2 separate regions of the Homo sapiens genome follow, and region 1 is linked to region 2. Evidence: fine-mapped expression QTL. A gene starts in region 2. The other region holds a variant in brackets. All regions are shown on one strand. Distances are from middle to middle.

Evidence for each region. PIP is the estimated chance that this variant, and not a neighbour inherited with it, causes the effect. A credible set is the group of variants that fine-mapping cannot tell apart.
Region 1: its variant is the best candidate, but not a certain one, in a credible set for the expression of DCTN2 in whole blood (TOPMed, PIP 0.53).

What each region holds. Positions count from the first base shown.
Region 1 is chr12:57,475,280-57,479,662 of GRCh38, reverse strand. ARHGAP9 (Rho GTPase activating protein 9) reads left to right here. Exons shown (of 18, transcript NM_032496.4): 2 at 239-572; 3 at 906-1,123; 4 at 1,983-2,204; 5 at 2,394-2,507; 6 at 2,700-2,792; 7 at 3,012-3,073; 8 at 3,209-3,299; 9 at 3,497-3,592; 10 at 3,732-3,830; 11 at 4,048-4,180; 12 at 4,265-4,372. The coding sequence starts at 257. Among named protein-coding and RNA genes, the nearest start is that of ARHGAP9, 2.4 kb to the left of the region's middle. RefSeq lists enhancers at 1,214-1,263, 1,624-1,823, 2,274-2,403, 2,873-3,762. The variant G/A (reference allele first, on the strand shown) is at 2,009.
Region 2 is chr12:57,544,825-57,549,207 of GRCh38, reverse strand. DCTN2 (dynactin subunit 2) reads left to right here and starts at 2,016. Exons shown (of 14, transcript NM_001261413.2): 1 at 2,016-2,180; 2 at 3,112-3,180. The coding sequence starts at 2,145. RefSeq lists an enhancer at 1,748-1,887.

The DNA.
Region 1 (4,383 bases), 70 kb after region 2:
CTGCTGACCACATCCTCTCTCATGTTACTTACATACTTCCTCACCAGACACCACCAGGAGTTCTCAGCCCCCAAAACCTGTCACCGATCCTCACCAGGCTGTTTGCTCTACCCTCTCCCCCAACTCAAGGGCTCCCGTCCTCACCTCCCTGCAACACTGCTCCTAGAACCATGTCTGTCTACCTGGAGACAGCCAGGCCTATTCCCTTCTGGGTCTCCAGTGTCCCTTTTTCTCACAGGTGACAGTGCTGGCTACAATGCTATCCAGCCGGTGGTGGCCAAGTTCCTGGGGGATCCTAGGGCTGGGCCCCCGAAGCCCTCCTCGGGGATCCCAGCTCTGTGCCCTCTATGCCTTTACTTATACTGGGGCAGATGGCCAGCAGGTGTCTCTGGCTGAAGGGGATAGGTTCCTACTGCTTCGAAAGACCAACTCCGACTGGTGGTTGGCAAGACGCCTAGAAGCTCCCTCCACCTCTCGACCCATCTTCGTCCCAGCAGCCTATATGATAGAGGAATCCATCCCTTCCCAGAGTCCAACTACCGTCATCCCCGGCCAATTGCTCTGGACTCCTGGTGAGTAAGCGCTAAGCCCTCTCCCTTCACCTTCCTACCTCCCATCACCTTCCTACCTCCCTGGCTTCTGGGAATTTTGGGGAGGTCCCCCTCCCTCAAGCTTCTGCTAACCATCTTCTCTTGTTTTTCTTTGATCAGCCTACCTCTTGCCCCCGCCATGGCATCCTCATCCCACTGCCTGTCCTCCTAGTCCTAAGGCTTCTAGGTCTCATGCCATTTTCCACATCCTCCCTCTGCCCTTCTTGTCTTCCCTGTGAGTTCCCAAGATGAGGGACCCAGTTACAACAACACCTCTGATCACCTGCCACCCACCCTCCCCTTTTCTGTTTCCAGGGCCGAAGTTGTTTCATGGTTCCCTGGAGGAGTTGTCTCAGGCCCTCCCAAGCAGGGCTCAGGCTAGCTCGGAGCAGCCTCCTCCACTTCCCCGCAAAATGTGTAGGAGCGTCAGCACTGACAATCTGAGCCCCAGCCTTCTGAAGCCTTTCCAGGAAGGACCAAGCGGAAGATCCCTCTCCCAGGAAGACTTGCCGTCAGAAGCCAGTGCCAGCACAGTGAGTCACAGCTCTTCTGAGCTGGGCCCTGTTCTAGGCACAGGACAGACAGCACCTCTGTCTTCAGGGGACTCCCCTGGGGATGACAAACACAAAAACAAATAAATAAGATAACGCTTGGTACTACTGATAAGTCTAAAGGCAAGTTAATGTGGTGGAGAGTGGCTGAGGTGGTGCGGGGAGACATCTGTGAGGTCACGGCATTCAGTTGACTCTGAGCAAGGAGGAGAAAGAGGCAGCCGAGAGGCAAACTGGGTAGGAGGTGAGAAGGGACAGTAGGTACCAAAGGCCCTGAGGGGACAGGGCACAGGGCGCAGTGGAGGCACTGAAAGGCCAGCCCTGTGCTCTTCCTTCCTCCAGACTCCTAGCCCAGGGCAGGGTTTTTCTGTGTTCTGCTTGCCTGATAGGCTACAGCAGGTCTCCTCTAGAGATGTGACTTGCCCAGCCCTTCCCTCTCTTTCTTAACCGTGGGTGGAAAGGGGCTCCTCTTCCCTTCTGTAGACCCTTCTCTGTCTTCTTTTACCTTGCAGGATGTGAGGGTGGGGCACCCCCTTCAACATTCCCCCCACCCCACAAAAAGCCTGTTCCCCTTTCCTGTGGCCCTGAGGTGGGGGTGGGGTGGGGGAGGCGGGAAGTTGGCAACAGGAAGTGAGGAGAAGAGCAAAGAAAACTGTGAGAGAGAGAATTTTTAAAAAGCAGCTGGGGCCTGAGGTTTCTCCCCCAGTACCCTGGGTCACCTCAGCCCAGAGCTGGCGGTGAGAAGACAATGGGGGAGGGAGCAGGAGGTGGGAAGGCCAAGAGAAGCATGGGAAGGGCAACAGGCAGAATGACCACCTCCTTCTTCCCCCTTTTCTGGCAGGCAGGCCCCCAGCCCCTCATGTCAGA[G/A]CCCCCTGTGTACTGTAACCTGGTGGACCTTCGCCGCTGTCCTCGGTCCCCACCCCCAGGCCCTGCATGCCCCCTGCTGCAGAGGCTGGATGCCTGGGAGCAGCACCTGGACCCCAACTCTGGACGCTGCTTCTACATAAATTCACTGACTGGCTGCAAGTCCTGGAAGCCCCCGCGCCGCAGTCGCAGCGAGACGGTGAGACCTTACCTCCTGCTTCTCCACTGTCCCCTCAAGCTCTTCCTTCCCCTGATGAACCTCAAGGTAGTGTGTTTTCTCTCCGGGGCTCTCAGAAGATCAGAAGAATCAGCCAAGTATAAGAAGGGTGTGGAGAGTGGGTAGAGGTGGCATCTGGATGTAGCTTTATTTCCTCCTCCCCTAACCCAGAACCCTGGCTCCATGGAGGGGACACAGACCCTGAAGAGGAACAATGATGTCCTGCAACCTCAGGCAAAGGGCTTCAGATCTGACACAGGGACCCCAGAACCGCTTGACCCACAGGTGAGATCCCTCCCATCTCCCAGTCACATGCAGAAAAAGCCAGCTTGTTATGACTTTCTGTTTTGTGTAAGACATTCTCCATTCCCCACCACACCCCCCACCTCTCACCCGTATCCCACCCCTCTTCCTCCTTCAGCCAGGGATCCCTGAGTCGAGCGTTTCCCCACCTGTTTCTCCAATCCTCTCCCCTAGGGTTCACTCAGCCTCAGCCAACGCACCTCGCAGCTTGACCCTCCAGCCTTGCAGGCCCCTCGACCTCTGCCGCAGCTCCTGGACGACCCCCATGTGAATCTCCCATTTCTTTGTGAAGGCCAAGATCCTCCCTGCCCCCCCTCCCCCCTTTTCCTGCTCCACATAAACATCTTCCTCTTTCTGAATATCCTCCTACCCAGCCCTCCCCCAGCAACTTTAAGGGACTTCACTCCTGGGAGACCCCCTAGGGAAAGCCGTGGCCACTATGGAGGGCGAGGGTGACTTACAGATCCCATTCCCTCCACTTCCCAGGAGGTGGAAAAGTCGGGTCTGCTCAACATGACCAAGATTGCCCAAGGGGGGCGCAAGCTCAGGTGAGAACCCAGAATACAGCTAGGGCCTGGGCTGTCAACTCCATAGGGTAGAGCAGGGTGTTGGAAGAGCACCCTCCTCGTGTCATTCTAGAATGACCTGTTCGCTACCACTACCTCCCCTCTCTGTCCCCGCAGGAAGAACTGGGGCCCGTCTTGGGTGGTGTTAACGGGTAACAGCCTGGTGTTCTACCGAGAGCCACCGCCGACAGCGCCCTCCTCAGGCTGGGTGAGTGTGAGCGAGAGGCGCAGGATGGGTGCGGGCGCTGCCTACCGCCTCACGCCAATGTGGGGGCGGCAGCGGGGAGGGCGGTGCAGAGGAAAGTAAAGAAGTGAGGAAGCCTCCCACCTCCTCACAGCCCACCGGGGAGAGGGAAGCAGTGAAGGAAACAACACCGTGGCCTCAGTTTCCTCCCTCATTGTCAGGGACCAGCGGGTAGCCGGCCCGAAAGTAGCGTGGACCTGCGCGGGGCGGCCCTGGCGCACGGCCGCCACCTGTCCAGCCGCCGCAACGTCCTGCACGTGAGCGCCCTCCCGCGCGTCCCCAAGGCCCCACCCGACCCGAGGGCGCCCCCAATCTCCCGCGCAGGCCTCCCGCTAGGTCTCCCTGCTTATTATACTCCTTCCCGTTGACCCGAGCGTTTCCTTGCCTGGCCCTCAGATCCGCACGATCCCTGGCCACGAGTTCCTGCTGCAGTCGGACCACGAGACAGAGCTGCGAGCCTGGCACCGCGCGCTGCGGACTGTCATCGAGCGGCTGGTTAGATGGGTGGAGGCCCGGAGGGAGGCTCCGACCGGCCGGGACCAAGGGAGTGGGGTAGGAACGATAGGAGTCAGGAGCAGTTGGGGGCAGGGTGGGCTCAGTGGAGAGCCCTTGCCTGGGCCGGGATGTGGGACCCCGGCAGTGGGTCAGAGTCCAGCTAGGGATACAGATTTCTCTCCTCTCTCACCTTCGACACGGCCCGCCCCGGGTCTAGGATCGGGAGAACCCCCTGGAGCTGCGTCTGTCGGGCTCTGGACCCGCGGAGCTGAGCGCCGGGGAGGACGAAGAAGAGGAGTCGGAGCTGGTGTCCAAGCCGCTGCTGCGCCTCAGCAGCCGCCGGAGCTCCAGTGAGGCGCGGGCTGGGGAGGGAGAGTCCGGGAGCGCAGCGAGGCTCCCGGGCGCTCACGCCCCGCTCTACCTGCCTCCTGCAGTTCGGGGGCCCGAAGGCACCGAGCAGAACCGCGTGCGCAACAAACTAAAGCGGCTCATCGCGAAGAGACCGCCCTTACAAAGCCTGCAGGAGCGGGGTCTGCTCCGAGGTGAGGGGGCT
Region 2 (4,383 bases):
GTCTCAGTAACCATTGGAGGATAGAGTCCCAATACTTCAGCCCCCTTCCCTGGCCAAAAAAAAAAAGGTGTGGGGGAAGAAAAACGAAAGAAATGCCAAGCCCAGAGATTCCTTGTCCTTCCTTCCTTTGGGTCAGACTCCTGCTGCAGCCCCTGGAAAGAACCACCAAGAAGCTGGCCAAATTGATTTTTCTCCATGTCACAGGCCTCTGCTGGCCAACAGAGAGTTGGACTGCAGGAGTTGAGGTTCTAGGCAAAGAGGAAGGGCAGGGTGGATGGGAGAAGGAGGAGGAAAGGAAAGTTCTGCTCAGCAACTGTCTGGTGAGTGGTTAAGGTCACTTAAGACACTATGGGACAAAAGTAAGAGGCTGATAGCCTGGCCAGACAAGACCTAACTATTCAGAACTCAGGGGGTTTCCCACATTGGGGCTACACCTCTAACCTACCTTGAATCTTAAGGGAACTGAAAGAAAAGAGTCCAACATAAGGAATGGGACAGGAAAGCTGTAGGACTATGGAGAAAGGGATAGAGGCTTGGGGAGGAGCCAGGAGAAAGAAAGACAACGAGTTCCGAACTCAGGAACTCTCTAGTCACTTGGTTTGGCACAATTTCTAAGTGTTGCAGCATCCTGCAAGCTCAGGAAACATCCTGGGAAACATCCCATCCTTGGGTCCCCAGGGGCTCCAAGGTGGCATCTTTAGTAAAGGGGTTTCAAAATGCCAGTCCATGGAGGGTCACTGGTCAGAGACAAAAGTTCACTGAGTATGCCCTCACCTCCAAAAGAACAATGGTGAGTTTTTTTTTAATATAAAGATGGATTTGATAAGTTTCAAAGGACTATCTTTTATTCTGAGTGTGTCCTTCTTGCTTTTCTACCAAGTAATGATGGTGACAGTAAATAATAGGTTTTCTATTTGTAATATACTTACTTGATAAAATAAAAAGGCAAATCTTCAAGGTTTGTAGTTGTTTTAATTTTATTGAACGATGAAATTTAAAAGTCTGAGAACGGAAGGTAAGGTTGGTGAATAGGTACAAAAAATTAGAAAGTATAATAAGACCTACTATTTGATGGCACAATAGGGTGACTATAGTCAAGAATAACTCAACTGTACATTTTAAAATAACTTAAAGAGTAATTGGATTATTTGTAACTTAAAGGATAAATGCTTGAGAGGATGGATACCCTCTTCTCCATGATGTGCTTATTTCACATTGCATGCCTGTATCAAAATATCTCATGTGTCCCATAAATACATACACCTACTGTGTACCCACAAAATTGAAAAAATTGAAAAATAAATAAAAGTCTGAGAACTATTAACGAAGTAGTTAAGAGCCCAGAGAGTGTTCAGACAGACATGGAGACACCACTTACCTACTTATGAACTTCAGATAGAATTGCCAGATTTGAAAAACAAAAAACAAAAACAGGATGCCCAGTTAAATGTGAATTTCAGATACTTAATTTTTGGGGGGTTAGTATACCCACACACCACACACCACACACACACACCTACTTATTATCTGAAATTCAAATTATCTGAAAGCCCTTACTTGAGAAGATTGCCTAACTTTTTCATTCCTAACATACACTACGCGTTTACTAAATTTTACTTCTTGTTTTTATTTTGTTTTTATAATACACAGTATCAAGCAAACTTCTTGTTTTTGAAACCCCGGCTGTGTCACAGTATGACTACCTGTATCATTTAATCTAGTCATTTTATTCCTGGGAGCCCCAAACAGGAATTATAAATGTTCTTTCACTGACTTGCTGTAAAAGTGAGAGAAAAGGCTGTATGAAATAGCTCCCCAAGGTTCGTTATTGTCGCTCCCCGCCCAAGCTCCAGTACACCAAAACTACACATCCCACAATCCTAGGCGGCGTCCCCTGGCCATTACCTCATTCCCTGGCCTCGTTCTCCCCAATCCCGGCCTCTCCAGGGGTGTGGCAGCAGGGCTGTTCTCGCGACTTTTGCTTTACCCTTCTGCTGTGCTACTGCTGTCGCGAGACTTCCTGCTCATCTGCCGCTCCCTTTGCCGCCGCCTTAGCCCGGGACCCGAACCCAGCCTCTCCCCTACCCGAACACCGGCCCCGGCTCCACCGAGGCCCGGGTCCCCCAGCCCGTCTCGCCGCCGCCATGGCGGACCCTAAATACGCCGACCTTCCCGGCATTGTGAGTACAGGACCGGCCCCGGCTCCCCAGGACCGCGCCCCCGACCTCCCAAGGACCCCCAGCAGAAACCAGCCCGCGACCCCTCCCGCCTGCAGCCCATCCTCCGCCCAAGGGCTCCCGCCGCTCGTTCTCCGATCGGCCTCAGCACCCCCCGAACTCTTCTGACCCGACTGGGCCGGGCCGCCGGACGGCGCACCAGGCCCCCTTTCCGGCAGTCGCCGGTAGCTCGGCCCAGAAATCGACTCCGGGTACTGACCTCTTGTGCCTGAGTTTTTCCACCATCCGTGTCAACGCCTCCCATGTCCCCCCCAAATCTCTCCATAAGACCCCATCGCTACCCCAGACACACACACCAGACCACTTAACGATGGCCTTCATCCTGCCAAGGAAGAGGTTCTGCCATCTGGCAGAACCCTCTTGTGCCAGATGGGGAGCTCTATCCTTGAGGGAACCTATGCCCTCCCCCAGCCCCCACTCCCATGACAATCCTGGCGTGTACCTTCCTTTTGTGCTGCCCTGCCTGCTTCTCAAGGTGAGGGTTGGGACACAGGACCTTGAGTACTAAGGTCCTGAGTCACTCTCAATCCTTGTGCCAGGGTGGTGGTGTACGGGGCCTAATTGGAGGATAGCCTTCACCTTCTTTGGCAATAGTGATTGCCAAGGACCTGCCCGCCTCTAGATTTAGGGTAACATCGTTGCTATCACTTACACTCACCGTTTACTGTCAGGTCCCAATTGTTTCCGCTGTCATCCCTACCCCTTGAGACATGGGAACTGACATACTGTTGACTCACGGGGCAGGTGGAGGAGAAAGGACAGAACCCTGACATCACACCCCGCCTTCTCTGTTAGCTTATTCAAATGGAGTGGGGGAAGGGGTGTTGTTGGATGCTGGGTAGTGAGGTTGGGTGGTCACTGCTTCTACCTGCAGGCCAGGAATGAGCCAGATGTTTATGAAACTAGCGACCTACCTGAGGATGATCAAGCGGAGTTCGATGCGGTAAGAATGTGTGCTGCCACAGACTCCTCCGGACTCTGACCTTTCTCCCCTAGACAGGTCCTTCCCTTTCTCGGGGGAGCTACAGCAATAAGCGGGTATGCCAACCCCAGCCTGGGTGGTATATAGGTTGCAGGGCTTGCAAAGACCTTGCTGGGCTTGCAGCCACCAATGAGCAATGGCAGGAGGGAGAGTCAAGTCAGCGGAATTACAGCTAACAACATCTGTTTGCAAAGCCCTGATTCTTGGGCCTTTTAAATAAAATTGAAATATCTCAAAACAGGTTTGGAGCTAGTGACTTAGGCCCCTGGGTTCTAACCCATGGAAATGAATCATGAAGCCTGGGCACTTGTAATAAACTGCTACCAAGAACTAGACTTTGAAATATGGAGAAATACTTTTTCCATATGAATATCCAGTATCCATTGGGCAAGGAATTAAGAAAGTGATTCCAAGATTTTAGAGCAAAACAAATTTGAGGAAGAATGTAAATATTTCACATCAGCGGATGTGAGACTGTGGTTGCATTTTTAGATCCGAGAATTCTGAGGATGGAGTAATTAGGTACGGATACATTTTAACTGTGAGGGGAAACATTTAGTATGGTTTATTGAGTGTGTTCATTCTGTGGTTTTTTTTGTGCAATGCAGAGGAAGAAATGTCTCTGCCCCCAATGAGCCCCAGACTAATGGGGAATTAGGATACATATAGGAAACATATAGAAGGAAAAAAAAATTGAGTGAATGGAAATCAACATAGTAAAAACTCTGTTTAAGTGCCAAGAGGTGTGTTTATAGGATGTGTTTTAGGTTCTATTATTTCTGAAGACAGCTGGGCTGGGATCACATTGATGATGTGAGTTCTCAGTAAAGATGTGTCCAAGAGTCATTGCAATATGCAGGCTCAGTATGCTTGTCTGTAAGTCCTGTGGCTATGTCTGTGGGGCTGGTTAATTCTGGGGAATGCTGACTGCTGGCTTACAATGTGTGGCTTGGCGTACTCACTTATTTCTTATTTGACTCCCCCATGTGGAAGTGGTTCTTACATTGTGGGAAACACCTTCTCTGTCCCTTCTCCCAGTGGTGTGTTCCTTGTGGCTTCTGTATTTGCTGGCATGCCAATCTATCCCCTAAGCTTGAGTATCTTGGAGATAATGCAGATGATGTTGTTGCTCAAGGACCTGGGTGTGCACCTGTCACTCCAAGA